3 linked regions of the Homo sapiens genome follow. Each later gene encodes a partner of the first gene's protein in a complex. Each region holds a gene or a part of one and is shown on either strand. Other genes may lie near its edges. The genes, in order: TADA2B, TAF5 and TAF4.

What was found.
Region 2: TADA2B (region 1) and TAF5 share a complex: the UniProt entries of both Homo sapiens proteins name them as parts of the TFTC-HAT complex.
Region 3: TADA2B (region 1) and TAF4 share a complex: the UniProt entries of both Homo sapiens proteins name them as parts of the TFTC-HAT complex.

Annotation. Positions count from the first base shown.
Region 1 is NC_000004.12:7,038,487-7,046,371, reverse strand, and holds the start of TADA2B (transcriptional adapter 2-beta), read right to left. Parts: upstream 3,001-7,885; 5' UTR 2,793-3,000; coding exon 2,523-2,792; intron 1,393-2,522; exon of another isoform or gene 1,270-1,392; intron 714-1,269; exon of another isoform or gene 141-713; intron 1-140. Other genes in the region: CFAP184 (cilia- and flagella-associated protein 184), read left to right, coding at 3,434-5,101. UniProt on the Homo sapiens protein: Coactivates PAX5-dependent transcription together with either SMARCA4 or GCN5L2.
Region 2 is NC_000010.11:103,377,950-103,385,117, forward strand, and holds part of TAF5 (transcription initiation factor TFIID subunit 5), read left to right. Parts: intron 1-285; coding exon 286-601; intron 602-1,658; coding exon 1,659-1,822; intron 1,823-1,934; coding exon 1,935-2,070; intron 2,071-3,771; coding exon 3,772-3,892; intron 3,893-5,288; coding exon 5,289-5,418; intron 5,419-7,168. UniProt on the Homo sapiens protein: The TFIID basal transcription factor complex plays a major role in the initiation of RNA polymerase II (Pol II)-dependent transcription.
Region 3 is NC_000020.11:61,974,253-61,979,004, reverse strand, and holds the end of TAF4 (transcription initiation factor TFIID subunit 4), read left to right. Parts: intron 1-2,669; coding exon 2,670-2,837; 3' UTR 2,838-4,207; downstream 4,208-4,752. UniProt on the Homo sapiens protein: The TFIID basal transcription factor complex plays a major role in the initiation of RNA polymerase II (Pol II)-dependent transcription.

The sequences.
Region 1 (7,885 bases):
CCAGAGCGGGCAGAGGCTAAATATGCCAAAGTGGGACACGCCAGCTCTGTGCACATAGCTGGATACATGCTCAGAAGAGCACCACCCATCTCAGAGCTGCAGAACAGCCTCAGAGGAAGAAAAATAAAGTCCCGGGGGATAACGCAACGAGGTTCTGCCAGGGAGATGGCAGCACGACCAAATACTGGTGCCTCACCACTCCGGGGGGGTGGGTGGTCACGGGCCAGTGCACCCCCTGAGTCCTGGTTGCAATGCAGGCTCTCAGGCCTCACCGTAACCTCGCGCTGGTGCAACGGGAGAACGCCCTGACCGCAGCCTGGCCAGGCTCGCTGTGCACCAAGTCCCAGCCCCATTCTCTTCCTGTCCTGGCTCTGCCTCCTCTACCAGCTGAGTCAGAATCTGCATTTTCACCAGCTCCCCAGGTGCTCTGTGTGCACATTCGTTCGGAAAGTATTGTTTTAGAAGAGGCCTCTCCACTTCTAGCCTGGTTTCTTCCAAAACCACATAGATGTTTTTGTTCCCCAGGTCTTGTGTTCTGTGTATTTTCCACAGTGCCGCAGGGAAGGCAGTGCAGACAGTGAAGTTAAGAGTACAGGCTCTGAAGTCAAACTGGTCCGTCCAAAGCCAACTGCCAAGGGCTGTCGGGAAAATGTCCTGAGATACGCACAGATATGCCACCAAGGCTCTGCGCCTCCTTAGCAGCTAACGTAGAGGTAAGTGCTGGGATGGTGAAGGGAAGGGCCCTCTGAGGCACTGATATTTAAGTGGAAAGCTCAATCCTGGGCCATGATTTACAGGGAGAGCACTCTAGGTAGAAGAAATATAAAACGATCAAGGGAGGTAACAGATGAGATCTCATTGCTCAACACTTCTAAAGCTGCCTTAATTGAAGTAAAAGCCACTGAGGCCGGTGTGAGGCGCTTTGTGCTTCCAAAGCTCGCTCCGGTTATGGTGTGTGGAATAGGGGAATGGGGTGGAGGGGGAATAACGAACAAGGAGGCTCCCAAAGTGGTCAAGGCAAGAAGTAAACGTAAACATCAGCCGGGACTACGGCTGTAAGAAGTGGTTTGTTCTGCATGTACTGTGAGGAGACAGCTGATAAATTGGATCAGGAACTTAGTGGAACAAGGAACTAAGAGAGGCAGGTAGGCCAGGGAGGCGGCTGGACATGGAGGGCTGGTGCTAGGGAAGAGCTCTGGGCCTAGGACCAAGTCAGTACCACACTTTAAGCTCCCTGAATGCAGGGATAAAGCCTTCTCTTTCCTTCAGAGTTCTCCGCCACTGTAGAATCCGCACAGAACACATGCTCAGTGCATATCCACAAACAGCATGGAAGGACAAGGTGGGACGGAGTTTCTGAAAAATGGAGATCCCAGTGCTGGTGGCCATTAGGTAAGGGTTTGTAAAGGAGCATCTTCTCTAAGGAGTTGGGAGGAGAATCAACATTCCAGGGCTTCAGAATGAGTATGTGAGGCGGCCCTGAGACTCACTCAGGAAAGGAAAGCAAAAGGCAATCAAAGCAGCCCAGGCAGGACTGCTGGAGAGGTGGCAGCGAGATGGATGCTGTTCCGAGAAGCAGGCACCTGGTGTAGCAGGGGAAGACTCTGGAAAGCTAAGGGCGCTGGGGGTGTCTCACTCCCCTCCTCCTCAGGGTGCCCGGGGATGGCCACATGTCTTTGGTGGTTATGAGCGGGAATACGGCTAGAGATTTTCTCCTTTCTAATACGGATGCAAGCTTCCAGAGTGGAAGGAGAGCTGAGAGACCGCCCAGAGAGAACCATGTTCCTCTCTCAAGGACAGAACCTAGCACACGATGTTGCTAGCGTAAGTGGATCCAGTCCAGCTCTCACCGCTCCCCACACAGGGCTGTCTCTACAGAAACCTCAAAGGTAAAGAGAGCAAAACCCAAGCCCCAGGCCTCCCAGGCCAGGCCTCTTTGTTCATTCTTTACTGACCATTCGCACAAGGTCGTGGGTTGTGGGGACCCAAGCATAAACCAGGCACGCTACCCACAAAAGACTCTGTGCACTGCGGACCACACAGGGCACATGCATACAGTGACAGAAAGCAAACGGGGCCGCCCCAGAGACCCCGAGACAAGCCGCAGGGCGCCCACCGCTCTCCTTCCCTGGTGCTCCCACCGCTTTCTGTCGAGTCTGTGGGCCTGCCTGTCTCCACGAACTCAGGTAAGGCACCGAGTCTTGCCCAACGTCTGCACTCCGCAAACGCCTGTGAAGGCGTCCCTGAAGGTGAGGGAAATGGCTCTGCTGTCAGAAGCCAGCGTTCAAAGCCCCACTCGGCCCCGTCTCGGCTGTGTGACCTTGGGCGCGTCACAGCCTCTCAGAGCATAGGTTCCGACAGGTGCCCGACTATAAACCGGCAGCGTCGCCCTCCCCACCTCCGGGGCCTTCTGGGGTGCGGAGCGAGCGAGCAGGTCCAGCGCTGCCTGCGCGCCCGATTACAGGAGAGGCGCGGGCCTTCCAGTGCCCTAGCCGGGACCCGGCCCCCGTCGCGCCGCTCACCCAGTTTCCGAAGCCGAACTGCTCGATGGCGTCCAGCAGCAGCTGCTCCTCGCGACTGGTCCAGCCGCCCTCGGCCTCGGGCCCCCAGAGCGTGAAGCGCCCGCCGTCCACCAGCTGGTAGCCGTGGTAGCGGCGGTGGTGGCCGATCTCGGCGCCGGCCGAGAAGCACTCGGGGCACAGCTCGATGTCCTGGCACTCGGTGCAGCGGAAGCGCAGCGGGCTCACCTCGGCCAGGCAGTACACGCAGTACTTCTTCCCCAGCTCCGCCATCTTCCCCCGCTCGCCGCCCGCCGCCCGGCCCGCCGCAGCCGCCGCGCCCCCGGCCGTCAGCGCCCCGCCGCCCGCGGGACCCGCCGCCGCCGCCGCGCACGAGCAACCGCCGCCCGCCGCCGCGGCTGCCGCCACCGCGGCCCCAGCCCAGCCGCCGCCAGAGCCAGCCAGCCGGGCCGCGTCCCCCCTCAGTACGCAGGCGCCGTCCGGCCCGGCCCGGCCGCCACCGCCGCCGCAGCTGTCGCCCCGCCGCATCGCGCAGGCGCCCCGCGGGCGCCACCTTGCGGACGCCCGGCCCGCCGCTCTGCGCCTGCGCGCCCCCCGCGCCGGCCACCGCCGCCTTTCCCAGAGCCTCCTGAACGCCCCGCCCCAGGCCCGGCGGTGGGAAATGGGCAGGCAGAAAGCCCGGCGGGGGCGCCACGCCCCTCGCGGCGAGAGCCCACGGCCGCTTCCAATCAATCTCGCCTATCGTCAGCTCGCGGCCTCCCATTGGCTTGCTCTCGCCGGGCAGCGGGGAGAAGGCGCTGGACGACGGCCTGTCGCCTGGCCAATCGCCGGGCCCAGCGCGCGCGCCTTCTGTTGCCCCGGGAAACCTAACAGCGTCCTGCCGGGGTCCGCTGCGCTGGCCGAGCCGGGAGGAGATGGACGTCAGCTCTGAGCACACTAAGGACCCCGGCGGGGAAGGCGGAGACGGGGAAAGCCTGGCCGCGCGGCCGTCCAAGATCAAGGCCAGCTCTGGCCCTCCGACCTCTCCCGAACCCGGGGAGCTGGAGTCGGAGCCGGAGGAGGAGGAGGAGGAGCAAGCGGCTTCGCAGGGAGGCACCGCCGCGGACGAGCAGGCCGAGGCCCCGAAAGGGCTAACGGCAGCCGAGGCTGCGGGCGAGGAGGGGCCTGGAGAGCCGGGGAGGCCGGCCGAGCCCCAGCCCGAGCCCGAAGAGCCGGCCGAGGTTGGGGCTGAGGAGCCCGCCCAGCCGGAGCCCGGAGCCGGGCCCGAGGAACTAGAGGCGGAGGCGGGGGCGGAGGAACTGGAGCAGGCGGCAGAGGGGAAGGAAGTCAGGTTCCAGGCCTCTCTGCCGCTGACCAGGATCGATGAGGAAGAGGCTGCTGCAGCCCCGGAGGCCGAGACAGAGCGGGTGGAGGGGGAGGAAGAGGACAAGGAGGAGACGCAGAGAGACGGCGCGGAGAGCAAGGAGAGGGATGGGGAAGGACGCCCGGCCAAAAGCCAGGAAGAGGGGAAGCGCCTCTATGGAAGGGACGAGTTTGAGGACCTCGAGTGGTCCGAGGAGGTCCAGAAGCTGCAGGAGCAGCAGCTGCGCAGCGACCTCCTGGACCAGTACCGTTCCCTGCTGGTGGAGCGGAACCGCTCCCAGCGCTACAACCTATACCTGCAGCACAAGATCTTCGAGGCGCTGCGCAGAAAGAAGGGCCTGGAGGCCGCTGAGGTGGCTGACCGGGGCGCAGAGGCCGAGGCCCCCGAGAAAGAGCAAGCGTACCTGCGCCATCTGGGCATGCTGGAGGAGCTGAAGAAGCAGCAGGCAGACGACCTGCAGTGGTACCACCAGGAGCTGGGCCAGTTGAAGCGGCAGTGCCAGGAGAAGCTCACCAGGGTGGAGAAGGAGTGGCGACGCTTCCAGGCACTCAAGAAGCAGGTGGTGATGCAGGCCATGGGCAGCTGTCGGATGAGGGGCGGGCGCCAGGCTGCTCTGCGAGAGGTGGAGCAGATCCAGGCGTTGGAGGATAAAAAGGAGAAGGAGATGAGCGCCGTGCGGCTGGAGAACATTCAGCTGAAGCAGAGCCTGGTGCATTTTGAAACCAGGATGAGGACCCAGGAGGACCTGACCCAGGGTCTGCTTCTTATTGACTTTGAACAGCTGAAGATTGAGAACCAAACCTTCAATGAGAAAATTGAGGAACGAAATGAGGAACTTTTAAAACTTCGCAGCAAGGTGACCAACAGTGTGCAAGTAATAACCCACGTGAAGGAAAAGCTGCACTTCATGGACATGGAGAACGCGTGCAAAAAGACACAGCTGGCAGAAATCGAGGCCCAGGCCGCCCTAGGAAGAGACATCCTGACCAAGACGAAGCAAGCCCGAGAGGGGCTGCGGACGGACAACATCAGACTGAATCAGAAGTGCGGCCTTCTAGGCAAGGACTCACTTCTTCGGGACTTGGAAGAAAAGGTGGACAAGACCGAACTGCTTCACCGGCGCCTGGAATCCCTGAAGCGCCACCACGCTAGCCTCACTTTGTCCTGCAGAGGCGTGAGGCAGAAGATCAGGGAGGCCAAAGCCTTTCTCCCTTCTTGACCAGATCGATGAGAAGAGTCTGCAAAACACTTCATCCTCAGGACGTGCTGTCCTGCTTTATTTTACCTTCGTTGCTATTAAAAAGGCCTGTGTCATTTGGGACGGGACTCTATTTTGTATTTATCTCAAAACGTTTTAGCTTCCAAATCAGTGCTGAGCCCAAACCTGGGTTAGGAGTTTTATCTGGGATTGAGCAAAAATAGGTCCAGAAAAGCAAACAAAGGGTGATTTAATGTAACTGACTTCTCATGAAAAACTGTCAAAAGTCTCAAGTCTGAGCAATTCTATAATTTCAGTGATGTAATACTAAAGAGTACTGTTCCTCTTTCATATGTAGGAGGGTTTAAAAGTTCAGCGAATGGGCAAGGTACAAAAAAACCCTGTGCATTAAGCTAATTATTAAATTCTTTGGATTTATTAAATTATGTAGTCCCGAGACACTGTTTCAGTTAGAAGCTCACTAATCCCCTTAGATTAATCTTAAATTTAAGTGATTTTGGGCCGGGCTAGGTGGCTCACCTCTATAATCCCAGCATTTTGGGAGGCCGAGGTGGGCAGATCGTGAGGTCAGGAGATCGAGACCATCCTGGCTAACACGGTGAAACCCCATCTCTACTAAAAATACAAAAAATTAGCCAGACCTGGTGGCGGGCGCCTGTAGTCCCAGCTACTCGGGAGGCTGGGGCAGGAGAATGGTGTGAACCCTGGAGGCAGAGCTTGCAGTGAGCTGAGATCGCACCACTGCACTCCAGCCTGGGCGACAGAGCGAGACTCTTGTCTCAAAAAAAAATTTTTTTTATATGTGACTAGCACGAGCTTAGGGGGCAATAAAAATATCCAGGAAACAGGAGAGATGATAAACAGGAGAGGAGCTGATGTTTCTTCATCGTCCCTTTTTCAATGAAAGGGAGTTCAGTCTACTCACTGTTGATGGTTGTTTCTGCTTCAATGACAGTCTTCAATTATTATTATTATTATTATTATTATTATTATTATTATTATTATTATTATTTTCCTTGGGACAGGGTCTCTGTCTCCCTGGCTGGAGTGCAGTGACAGGATCTCGGCTCACTGCAACCTCCACCTCCCGGGTTCAAGCGATTCTCCCGCCTTAACCTCCTAGGTGGCGGGGATTACAGGCACAGGCCACCATGCCCAACTAATTTTTGTATTTTTAGTAGAGATGAGGTTTCACCATGTTGGCCAGGCTGGTCTCGAACTCCTGGCCTCAAGTGATACACCTGCCTCGGCCTCCCAAAGTGCTGGGATTACAGGCGTGAGCCACCGTGCCTGGCCTGACAGTGTTCAAGTCTAATGAAACATGTTCTTGGATCCTCTGAAGAAATGCATTAATCTGTACCAAAAAATGAAATTTTGGCCCGGGCGCGGCGGCTCACGCCTGTAAATCCCAGCACTTTGGGAGGCCGAGGCGGGTGGATCACGAGGTCAGGAGGTCGAGACCATCCTGGCTAACACGGTGAAACCCCGTCTCTACTAAAAATACAAAAAAAAAAATTAGCCGGGCGTGGTAGCGGGCGCCTGTAGTCCCAGCTACTCGAGAGGCTGAGGCAGGAGAATGGCGTGAACCCGGGAGGCGGAGCTTGCAGTGAGCCAAGATAGTGCCACTGCAGTCCAGCTTGGGCGAAAGAGCGAGACTCCGTCTCAAAAAAAAAAAAAAAAACTGAAATTTTGTTTTCCAGTGAAAACAAAATGACAGTTGTATTGCATGCTTTGCAAGGTGTAAAATATATTACACGGTGGCTGCTGGCATCACAGGAGACAGAGCCTTCTGTATCAGTCTATTTCAGATCTCGACAACAGGGCCCTTGCTATACACGAGTTCATTGAGTATCAAATAGTAAAATGCCCCTTATTCCTTGTGTCAAAAATACCTGGTAGGTCTGTTTCCTTAATGCAATATCAGTGATTATCTTGGAGCTAGGGGCTTGTTTTCATTTCTTCTTAATCCTAGATTGAATTTTGAGATGTGCAGATTTGGGGTTAAACATATTCTCCCACTCCTACACTTAAGTGAATCATAAAAAAATGCAACACGGTTTTTGGTGCTGGCTACCTCTGAAGAACGGTGGGAACCCAACTCTGGGCAGGGGACTTGGTTGTGAACGTTATCTTTGGATGCCATGATTTTGTGTTTTTTTTCTTTTTTTTTTTTTTTTTTTGAGACGGAGTCTCACTCTGTCTCCCAGGCTGGAGAGTGCCGTGGCATGATCTCAGCTCACTGCCACCTCCACCTCCCGGGTTCAAGCGATTCTCCTGGCTTAGCCTCCCGAGTAGCTGGGATTACAGGCGCCCGCCAGCACATCTGGCTAATTTTTTGTATTTTTTAGTAGAAACGGGGTTTCACCATATTGGCCAGGCTGGTCTCAAACTCCTGACCTCATGATCCGGCCGCCTCGGCCTCCCAAAGTGCTGGGATTTACAGGCATGAGCCACCACGCCCGGCCATGATTTTGTTTTGTAAAGTGTGCTCCCTTGGAAGCCAATGAAGGTTGATTAAAATTCCTTTTCTAACTTTCATGGCTCGAATACACTTTTTTAAATCAAACCACTCAAAAGTAGTAATGAGTTAAAAAGCTTTAGGCCGGTCGCCATGGCTCACACCTGTAATCCCAACATGTTGGGAGGTCAAGGCAGGTGGACCACTTGAGCCCAGGAGTTTGAAACCAGCCTGGGAAACATCACAAAACCCTATCTCTATAAAAATACAAAAAGATTAGCCGGGTGTGGTGGTACATGCCTGTGGTCTCAGTGCCTCAGGAGGCT
Region 2 (7,168 bases), on another chromosome or scaffold:
TACCAATGGTGGGTATATTATTTTTCACTTAGGATATTTAAGTTCTTTTCTTAAAATGTTTGTGATACATTTCATTAGAGAATTACATTTGTTCATTTTTAGAATAAATTCAGAAACTGAATTATAGTCATTTTGAAATGAGTTACTTCTTATCCTACAGCTTAGTTCAGGATTATTTAGACTACTACATTGAAAATATTCTGGGATGGTTTATAAGTATATGGGGGAAAGGCAGATCCCTTAATGATTACATTGAAAAATGACTTTTTAAAATCACTGAAACAGGTTCCATGGAGATCAGGAATGTTATTACCAGGATGACCTACGAGTATTATCTAGTCTTACCAAAAAGGAACACATGAAAGGGAATGAGACCATGTTGGATTTTCGAACAAGTAAATTTGTTCTGCGTATTTCCCGTGACTCGTACCAACTCTTGAAGAGGCATCTTCAGGAGAAACAGAACAATCAGATATGGAACATAGTTCAGGAGCACCTCTACATTGACATCTTTGATGGGATGCCGCGTAGTAAGCAACAGATAGATGCGATGGTGGGAAGTTTGGCAGGAGAGGCTAAACGAGAGGCAAACAAATCAAAGGTATGGGAATGAACCTAAGAACTCTATAATGCAGATTATGAAAAATTGTAGCATTTCCATCTACATAAGTTACACATTTTTCTTATAGCTAGCTTGGAAACAATTTTTTTCGTTTGTTTGTTTTGAGACGGAGTTTTGCTCTTGTCACCCAAGCTGGAGTGCAGTGGCGTGATCTCAGCTCACTGCAACCTCCACCTCCTGGGTTCAAGTGATTCTCCTGCCTCAGCTTCCCGAGTAGCTGGGATTAGAGGCACACGCCACCAACCTGGCTAATTTTTGTATTTACTTTAGTAGAGACAGGGTTTCACCATGTTGGCCAGGCTGGTCTCGAACTCCTGACCTCAGATGATCCACCCGACTCCGCCTCCCAAAGTGCTGGCATAACAGGCGTGAGCTACTGCGCCTGGCCGCTTGGAAACAATTTTATACTGTATATAAAATTTTGTGTTCTAAGGGTGATGTTTATATGTGACAATTTGGGTATGGTTGCATTTTATGGAACCCTGAATGCAGTGGCTGAAACAAAGAATTTTTCTCCCATAAAATGAATTTCAGAGGAAGGCCTTCCAGGGCTGGCATGAAGGCTCCACAGTGCCATCAAGGTCCCTGGCTCCTTCTGGTTTCTGATCCACCATCTTCAGAATGTGGCTTTCCTCTTTGTGCTCACAAATGGCTGTTGCAGTTTCAGCATTGCAGCTCCGTTCCAAGAAGGAAGAAGGGGGAGGACAAAAGGCATATCTCTGCTGAAGCTTTCCCTTTTTAATCAGGAAAACAATATTTTTTTGATACAACCATACCCAGTATACTTATATGGACATTCCTAGCTGAAAGGGAGCCTGGGAACAGAAATGATTTAACTGAGCACATTGCTACTCCAATAAAATCAGGGTTCTGTTAGTAAGGAAAAAGGGGAGAATGGCTATTGGGTAGACAAATACAGAACCCTGCTTCAGAGTGTAAATTACTATTTTGTAATTGTGATTTATCCTATCAAGATGTAAAATGGGTATATTAATGAATAAATAATTTTAAAAATGTTGGCTCTTTTGACTTGTAGGTATTTTTTGGTTTATTAAAAGAACCAGAAATTGAGGTACCTTTGGATGACGAGGATGAAGAGGGAGAAAATGAAGAAGGAAAACCTAAAAAGAAGAAGCCTAAAAAAGATAGTATTGGATCCAAAAGCAAAAAACAAGATCCCAATGCTCCACCTCAGAACAGGTGAGGAAAAAACTTCAGGAACTTGTGTGTGGAGGTATAAGACAACATGTTATATAGAGTTCAAGTTTGTTAATAGTCAAAAGGTAATTTTGACTCTCTTTTTCTTTCACAGAATCCCTCTTCCTGAGTTGAAAGATTCAGATAAGTTGGATAAGATAATGAATATGAAAGAAACCACCAAACGAGTGCGCCTTGGGCCGGACTGCTTACCCTCCATTTGTTTCTATACATTTCTCAATGCTTACCAGGTTGGTAAAAAAATTGGGCGATTTCTGCCTGGAGAGTCATGTAGGATGATGATTTACCATTAAGAGAGAAACAAATGTATTAGCTAAAATGGAGTTTCGTTATTTAAACTCCTTTTTTTTTTTTTTCTGAGACAGAGTCTCGCTCTGTCGCCCAGCTGGAGTGCAGTGGCGCGATCTCAGCTCACTGCAATGTCCGCCTCCCAGGTTCATGCCATTCTTCTGCCTCAGCTTCCCCAGCAGCTGGGACTACAGGCGCATACCGCCATGCCCGGCTAATTTTTTGTATTTTTAGTAGAGATGGGGTTTCACCGTGTTAGCCAGGATGGTCTCGATCTCCTGACCTTGTGATCCGCCTGCCTCAGCCTCCCAAAGTGCTGGGATTACAGGCATGAGCCACCGCATGTGGCCCCTAAACTCTTATACAATTTAAAGACAGCATTCAGGAAGAGAGAATTGGATACTGCACAGAATAGATAGAAGTCAATGTTTAATGGCATTTGTTTCACCGATCAGAATTCTGCTAGCCTTTGAGGAGGAGCAAATTGTAGTTCATTTCTGTTGAACTTGGTTTAAGTACTTACGTAAACTTATTTATCAATTTTTTTTTTTTTTTGAGACAGAGTTTTGTGCTGTCACCTAGGGTGGAGTGCAGAGGTGAGATCTCAGCTCACTGCAACCTCTGCCTCCCGGGTTCAAACGATTCTTGTGCCTCAGCCTCGGCCTCCTGAATAGCTGGGATTACAGGCACCCTCCACCATGCCTGGCTAATTTTTGTATTTTTAGTAGAGACAGGATTTTGCCGTGTTGCCCAGGCTGGTCTTGAACTCCTGACCTCAAGTGATCTGGCCGCCTCAGCCTCCCAAAGTGCTGGGATTACAGGCGTGAGCCACCGTGCCCAGCCATATAAACCTTATTTTATTTTATTATTTTAATTTAATTTCATTTTTTGAGATGGAGTCTTGCTCTGACACCTAGGCTGGAGTGCGGTGGTGCAATTTTGGCTCACTGCAACCTCCGCCTCCCAGTTCAAGTGATTCTCCTGCCTCAGCCTCCTGAGTAGCTGGGATTATAGGCATGAGCCACCACGCCCAGCTAATTTTTGTATTTTCAGTAGAGAAGGGGTTTCACCAGGTTGACCAGGCTGGACTTGAATTCCTGAGCTCAGGCAATCCACCCGCCTCAGCCTCCTAAAGTGCTGTGATAACAGGCATGAACCCCCGCGCCCGGCCAAACTTAGTATTTTATTTTATTATTATTTTTTTTTTGAGATGGAGTCTCACTCTGTCGCCCAGGCTGGAGTGCAGTGGCACGATTTTGGCTCACTGCAACCTCTGCCTCCTGGGTTCAAGTGATTCTCTTGCGTCAGCCTCACAAGTAGATGGGATTACAGGTGCCCACCACCCTGCTTGGCTAATTTTGGTATTTTTAGTAGAGATGGGGTTTCACCATGTTGGCCAGGCTGGTCTTGAACTCCTAACCTCAGGTGATCCACCTGTCTCAGCCTCCCAAATTGTTGGGATTACAGGCATGAGCCAGTGCGCTTGGCCAATATTTTAAATCAAGAATTTTAAAAGTCTTTATATATTCCTTAAAATAGAGGATTGAGGAGATATTTAGTATAGTGTGAAAATGATTAACATTTGCTTCCTATCTCTAAATATCCTAAAATAGTATTGTTTAGTCTAACCCTTTTATTGGCAGGGTCTCACTGCAGTGGATGTCACTGATGATTCTAGTCTGATTGCTGGAGGTTTTGCAGATTCAACTGTCAGAGTGTGGTCGGTAACACCCAAAAAGCTTCGTAGTGTCAAACAAGCATCAGGTAACTGAGATGACCTTTTGGAATGTGAACTTGCCATTAGTCTATACCAATCTTGATTCCATGGAAAATACACAGGAGATTGTGTTCTTTACAGAAATTCACTTGATTTTACTTTAACTCAAGATTCTAACATTCCCAACAGTGAAAAAAGCTTTGGAGTGACTGGGGTGCTAGACTGGTTTAATTTCTTTAGGTCTCAGTTTTCTCATCTGTAGAATGAGTGAGTATTAAGCTAAAAAACTTAAAGTTAAAAATCTAACATTTTATGATTGCTTGTAAATCTTAAAAAATCTTTAAATAAGGGATGGTACTTCCTGTTTTAGTCATAAAAATGGCTAAAAAGAACAAATAAGGTCAGGATTTTATTTGAAAGTTTTTTACTTTTTGTTTTTTTGAGACAGAGTCTCGCCCTGTCACCCAGGCTAGAGTGCAATGGCGCAGTCTTGGCTCACTACAGCCTCTACCTCCCAGGTTCAAGGGATTTTCTTGTGTCAGCTCCCCAGCTCCCCAGTAGCTGGGATTACAGGTGCCCACCACCATGCCCAGGTAATTTTTGTATTTTTAGTAGAGATAGGGTTTCGCCATGTTGGCCAGGCTGGTCTCGAACTCCTGACCTCAAGTGATCCGCCTGTCTGGCCTCCCAAAGTGCTGGAATTATAGGTGGCTCACTGCAACCTCCACCTCCCTGGTTCAAGCGATTTTCCTGCCTCCACACCCGGCCTGAAATAAAGTTTTTTACTAACTATATTATTTAAATAAAACAATATATTTTAAATTATTTCAATATTTCCATAGGTTTTTTTTTTTTAATTTTAAATTTTTTTTAGATGGGGTCTCACTCTGTTGCCCAGGCTAGAATGCAGTGGTGTGATCACGGCTCACTGCAGCCTCTAATCCCTGGGCTGAAGTGATCCTCCCACTTCAGCCTCCTGAGTAGCTGAGACTACAGGTGTGTGCAACCACACTGGCTAATTTTTTATTTTTTGTAGAGACAGGGTTTCTCCATGTTGTCCAGGCTGGTCTCGAACTCCTCTGGGCTCAAGCAATCTGCCCGCCTTGGCCTACCAAAATTCTGAGACTACAGGTGTGAGCCACCATGCCTGGCCCATAGTTTTCATTTTGTGAAACACTGTGGCATAGTGGGCAAAACTGAGTTTCAGTTCTGGTTCCCACACTGAGTAGCTGTGTGCACTCTAGCAAATTATCTGTTCTGAACGTCATTTTCTTCTCTTACACGCTGAGATGATACTGCCTAATTTAGAGGGATTAGCAAAGTGCGGTTGGTATATAGGAGGAAATTTTCAAATGTTAATTCCTCTCCTGCACTGTGATATGATTACTTTAAAAGTTTTGATGAATGTACTTATAAAATATCAATATTTCTGGACCATTTTAGATCTTAGTCTTATAGACAAAGAATCAGATGATGTCTTAGAAAGAATCATGGATGAGAAAACAGCAAGTGAGTTGAAGATTTTGTATGGTCACAGTGGGCCTGTCTACGGAGCCAGCTTCAGTCCGGATAGGTAAAATACAAACAATAAAAATTAAATACTGCTATGTTATATTGAAATTATATAAAAGTTAACTACTGGAAACATTATGCAAATGCTGGGAAAATTCTGATAAAAATCTCATGGTTGTCTGACGTTCATCATCTTTTAGAATCTTGCCATTTGCTAATTCATCTTTGAATCCTGGTGTTTGTACATGGTAGCAATTTAATGTATACTCACTTTTTTTTTTTTTTTTTTGAGACAGAGTTTCGCTCTTGTTGCCCAGGTTGGAGTGCAATGGCGTGATCTTGGCTTACCGCAACCTCCGCCTCCTGGGTTCAAGCGATTCTCCTGGCTCAGCCTCCTGAGTAGCTGGGATTACAGGCATGCGCCACCACACCTGGCTAATTTTATTTTTTTATTAGAGATGGGGTTTCTCCATGTTGGTCAGGCTGGTCTTGAACTCTCAACCTCAGGTGATCTGCCCACCTCAGCCTCCCAAAGTGCTGGGATTACAGGCGTGAGCCACTGTGCCTGGCCTGTATACTCAAATTTATAGAATCAAAATGCACAGTTTCAGGGCTTACTGGTTTTAAAAATTAGCTTTAGTATTTCCCTTTTTTTTTTTTAATTATTTTTATTTGTTACCCAATGGTAAATAACCAACCAAAGCTTTAGTTTTATAGAACTCCATTAGGGGTTGAATTGCTTCATTGGGTCCCTGCATTGTGTCTTCTGGCTGCTTCATCAAATTTAAGACAAATTCCTGACATTAATGGCATATTAGCTAGTAATTGAGGATTAATCTTTCTATAATCAAAAGTACTAAGAGTAAATGAAAAAGGAAATTCAAAATTGGTTTGCTTCCCTTTAGGTGTATGATTACAATGTCATCCTATGTGTATAGGTATTTGCCTATTTTTCATGATCTCTAACACTGTAAAAATGGGTGGAGGGTGTTTTGTATTCATAATACCATCAGTATATTACTTGGATAGATAATAGCTTTCAGGCCGGGCACAGTGGCTCACGCCTATAATCCCAGCACTTTGGGAGTCCAAGACAGGCGCATCACCTGAGATCAGGAGTTTGAGACCAGCCTGGCCAACATGGGAAATCCTGTCTCCACTAAAAAGTACAAAAATTAGCAGGGTGTGGTGGCGCCCACCTGTAATCCTGGCTACTTGGGAGGCCGAGGCAGGAAAGTCACTTGAACATGGGAGGCAGAGGTTGCAATGAGCCGAGATTGCACCACTGCACTCCAGCCTGGGTGATAAGAGCAAAACTCCATCTCAAAAAAAGAAGAAAAGAAAAAAAGATAATAGCTTTCCATCCATCAAGGTTTCATCATTACGAAACTTTGAGAATTAGGTTTTTTGTTGCTTGATAAGGTTTTGCCAGATGATACATTTTTGAGGGAAACGTCTGATTTCAGTGAAAATTGTAATAACCTTCTGACTATCAATCTTTTGTGTTTATGCTTGAAAAAGGTAGAGAATTATTAGCATGTCTGTAGTTTTTTTTTCTTTTTCTTCAAAAGACATTTCCTTTTTAATTCTTACATAGCTTACACAGCATGGGAAAATAGCATCTTTATTTTAGGGTCAAAAATTGTTGAGTTTTAAGTGACATATCACATTTCTTAAACTTTCTCAATTGACCTTATTTGACTATACTTTGTTAATTACCCCTGCTATTTTTTTCTTGTAAAGAACTCTGATTTTCCCTAAGTTTTTGTATCATATTACCTCATTCAGTAGGTGCTCGGTATATGTAGAGT
Region 3 (4,752 bases), on another chromosome or scaffold:
GCCTGGGGCGAAGTGGGCTGGGGAGAAGCGGGAGTGTGCCATGTAGAGAAAGGCAATTGGAGTATCAGGTAGGTTAGATTTGCGTTTTTCTTTTAAGATTTAAGAAAAATTTGAAGAAAAATTTGTATTGATAAAACTCACAGAATCTGGAGAAGTTATATTGTTCATTCATAGTGCACCTTCAGAGCTTGGTGCAGAAGCAGGGCCTGGCATCAGTTTCTCAGCGTGCTGGGCCCTGGGGGTGGCCTCAGCCCCAAGGAGGCACCGTCTGGCCTTGGTTGGTCTCGCCCCCTCCCTTGGTTGGTCTCGCCCCCGGCCTTGGTTGGTCTCGCCCCCGGCCTTGGTTGGTCTCGCCCTCGGCCTTGGTTCGTCTTGCCCCCGGCCTTGGTTGGTCTCGCCCCCTCCTTTGGTTGGTCTCGCCCCCGGCCTTGGTTGGTCTCACCCCCTCCTTTGGTTGGTCTCGCCCCCGGCCTTGGTTGGTCTCGCGCCCTCCCTTGGTTGGTGTCGCGCCCTCCCTTGGTTGGTGTCGCGCCCTCCCTTGGTTGGTGTCGCGCCCTCCCTTGGTTGGTCTCGCCCCCTCCCTTGGTTGGTGTCGCGCCCTCCCTTGGTTGGTGTCGCGCCCTCCCTTGGTTGGTGTCGCGCCCTCCCTTGGTTGGTGTCGCGCCCTCCCTTGGTTGGTGTCGCGCCCTCCCTTGGTTGGTGTCGCGCCCTCCCTTGGTTGGTGTCGCGCCCTCCCTTGGTGTCGCGCCCTCCCTTGGTTGGTCTCGCGCCCTCCCTTGGTTGGTCTCGCGCCCTCCCTTGGTTGGTCTCGCGCCCTCCCTTGGTTGGTCTCGCGCCCTCCCTTGGTTGGTCTCGCGCCCTCCCTTGGTTGGTCTCGCGCCCTCCCTTGGTTGGTCTCGCGCCCTCCCTTGGTTGGTCTCGCGCCCTCCCTTGGTTGGTGTCGCGCCCTCCCTTGGTTGGTCTCGTGCCCTCCCTTGGTTGGTGCTGACACTTGCGTTAGAATATCTTGATTTCTTACCCTCGGCAGCCTTTAAATTGAGCACCTGAGATGAGCGTCTCTCCTTCACCCCGGTCCTCTTTTTTAGCTGCTGAACTATTTTGAAGATAGAAACATCAAACACAGTCCGGAATTTATAGCAGGTGTCACTGGGTCACACAGCCTGTTTGGGTGGTGCCTGTGAGAGCCCTGCCCTCACCCTGCAAACTGTCACTCACCTCGCCTGAGTTCTCTTTTGGGAGGCCTGGCCCTCAGGTGCGGATCACTTTATAATGAGCTAGTGTGGAGTGCGGAGGCTTCAGTAGCAAAGGGACCCCGGGCAGGTCTGAAGAAGGGCCCTCACAGCGCAGGGCGTCTGAACGGAGACAGGTGCCCTCATCTGTTTGAATCTCACAGGAATAAAGAAAATGCAGTGGGTCAGAGACACACTTGCATGCCATCACACAAGGCAGCCATGCTCCCAGCCTGAACTGAAAGTGGCAGAACGGGGAAGGGGGGAGGAAGGACGGCATGAGGGGCGGGGCCATGTCAGGGCTGTTCACAGCAAGGCTCCCACTGGCACACACAGCAGAATCCGCTCCTTCCAGCATCTTAACTTTGGTTGAGAATGTGCTGTAAAGATGCCATCGTAATCTTTGTACTTAAATATATGTGAGCAGCTTTCACCATCGGAGCAGAACTTAGTTTTCATGCCAGCTGGGGGAAATGACAGCTGTTGGGAGTTGTGTGGCACGTGCCCCGCTGGGCGGTGTCGTGTGTGTGTGGTGCGCGCCCCGCTGGGCGGTGTTGTGTGTGTGTGGCGCGCGCCCCGCTGGGCGGTGTCGTGTGTGTGGCTCGTGCCCCGCTGGGCGGTGTCGTGTGTGTGGCGCGTGCCCCGCTGGGCGGTGTCGTGTGTGTGGCGCGTGCCCCGCTGGGCGGTGTCGTGTGTGTGGCGTGTGCCCCGCTGGGCGGTGTCGTGTGTGTGGCGCGTGCCCTGCTGGGCGGTGTCATGCAGGTGTCATCAGCTGAAACCGCCAGAGCTCTCCACAGGAGCTGGCACGCAGCAGCTATGCTTCTCCAAGCAGGAACACATCTGAGGCAGCTCGGGAGACACCTGGTCACCTGTAGGGGCTGACGGAGGCGGCGTCTGTGCAGCCAGGGCCCAGCCAGAGGCTCAGGGATCACTGTGGGAGCCACTGAGAAACCCAGCCTTCCCAGCTGACCCAGCATGCCCAGTCCCAGCCAACCCCAGGCCTCCCAGTGCAGGAATTCAGCAGCCAAGCGGGGATGACACACACAGACCTAGTGTGGCTTTTGTGCCCCAGCTGAGTCCACAGGCAGTCCAGCTGTGGTCACATGGAGGGTGGCCCTGGGGCCGCTCAGCCATTTGCCTTGGGTGGGTGCCACCCCCTAGTCCATCCTCAGCCCCAGGACCAGGTCCAAGCACTGTGGGGCATTGGGCAGCATCTGAGTGTGCCCTGTCCTGAAGGTGCAGCATGGGGCCTCCTGCCCTTGCCCCTGCCCTGGCAGGGCCCTGGACAGCACCCCAGCTCCAGCTGTGGGCCTACCGGAAGGAGCCCGTGCCAGGCCTGGCCTCCTCTGGAATCGGGGTACTTGGCTCAGATACACAGGCTCATTGCAAGCCCCACTCTGAGCCCCACTAACACACTGTCTTCTCCTTTTTCATCACCAGGGGTCGGGCCCCGGCTCAGTGGTCCCAGGCAGCTCGGGTGTCGGAACCCCCAGACAGTTCACGCGACAAAGAATCACGCGGGTCAACCTCAGGGACCTCATATTTTGTTTAGAAAATGAACGTGAGACAAGCCATTCACTGCTGCTCTACAAAGCATTCCTTAAGTGACACAGGAGGACGCCTGGGGACTTTTTATATATTTGCAGATTACGCCTTTTTGTAACGAGCAAATGGGATATTGTTTAAAAAACAGCCACCTCTTTACAATGGAACAGTTTTATATTCCTGTTTCTAAATCAGCTCTTCAGTGTGAAAGAAAACACGTTTCTGTAACAGAGAGAACACAAAGGCCTGTGGATACTCTTAAAGGACAATTAAATCTTAACTCATCTTGATTGAGTGGCCTTCCTGCCAAACAAGCCATATATAAAGACTGATGGAATCGTTAGCAAATAATTAGCTGCCCTCTGTCAACTCATAGCAGTTTCTGCATTATTTGTGCATTTTGGTTTAGTTCTACCTAACTTACTATGTAGGTGTATGTCTACAGCCGATGACCTCATTTCGTTTATTTTATTTTTGTAATAGTCAGTTGGCAAAGCAAACTGATTTTTTAGACTATTTATCTTCCTTCCCTTCCCCTCCCACCCCGCTCTCCTCTCTGCCCCCTGCCCTCCCCTCCCCTCCCTTCCCCTCCACTCCGCTGAGAATCCTGGAGGAATACACAATTCATCGTTGCACCCCCACCTCAGAGTGTAATCGCATTTCTGCTTGGTAGAGGCCGAGCCCAGCAAAGGTGGCTCCTTCTGAATGTGTGGTCAGCATCTGTACAAATGCATTTTATTTGCTATAGTTTGTAAAGCTGTAAAGTTAAAAGAGATGAAAACCTTTTCAGCATAAATATATTTTACTTGCACTGTGTTTTTTAGCTAAAAGTGAAAACCTAGATTAAATAAAATCAAAGTTGAGAAGAATCATCAAAAGACTGTTTCTCGGTGTGAATCAAGTGTTGAAAAATGGTTGGTGTATTTTGTCAGTAATTGTACATAACTTTTGGCACATGACATAGAAATGGCTATGTAAACTATAATTATTTTGCTAAGAGACTGTATGCAAGCCTTGGGCCGACTTTACAGACGTCCAGAGCAAAGCCCCTTCTTTGTACCTATTTTTTTATTACAAATATACTAATTGGTTCTTTCTATTTTCAGAGGTTATTGTATGAAATTGTCTATTGATAGTACTTTTATGACTGTAAATACTCTGGCTTTCTCCGTGTGAATTCTCACATTAGACTTTAATTCGAGCGCGTGTGAACTGAACGCTGATCAGTATTTTTTATCAACACCTGAGAACTGTTACACCTTTTATTTTGTCTTTTAGGAAATCCCTGTCTTTCCATTTTTTCATGTAAATTTTGCACAGTTACTTGTTCATATGTAAATATTTTACTTTCAGAAATGAAGTTTTTAATTGCTATTGTTTTATATAGGATTGAAAGAAAATTAACTCCTTTATTAAAAACAAATTTATCTGTATTTGTTTTGCCTATTTTTCCTCCGTTTTCCAGTTTTAGATTCTACTGCCAGATTGCACTCCGGCTCTGCTGAGGTGCTGGTTTCTGAGCCACCTGTTGGAATCTGTAGCTGAGCCCCATCAGAGCCGGGAGAAAGAACTTTCTCTGTGAGGACAGGGGCCGAGCTACTCTCTGCGTGGAGTCTGGGGGCTGGCGGCTGCGCTTAACACCTTCTGCTGTCACAGGTGGAGATGAGCTGGGCACAGCTAGGAGGGGCGGCGGGAGGCCCAGTGCTGGGGGAGATGTACACAGAAACGCACGTGGCGAGCCCGGCTGAGGTGCCCAGAGGGCCCCAGCCTTGACGCAGACCTCCTGTGGCGAGAGAGGGCGTCTCCAGGGCAGTTTGTGGTATTGGTTGGTCCTGACAGGTCACAGCTCCTGCTGGGCCCTCAGAGGCTCAGCGCCAATGTGTACCGCTCCCTGCCTTCGAGCACCTTGGAGAGCCTTTGGGAACGGTCTCTGATGCAATTGGAGTTGGTCTCCCATTGTGACGTTCACTCCACCTAC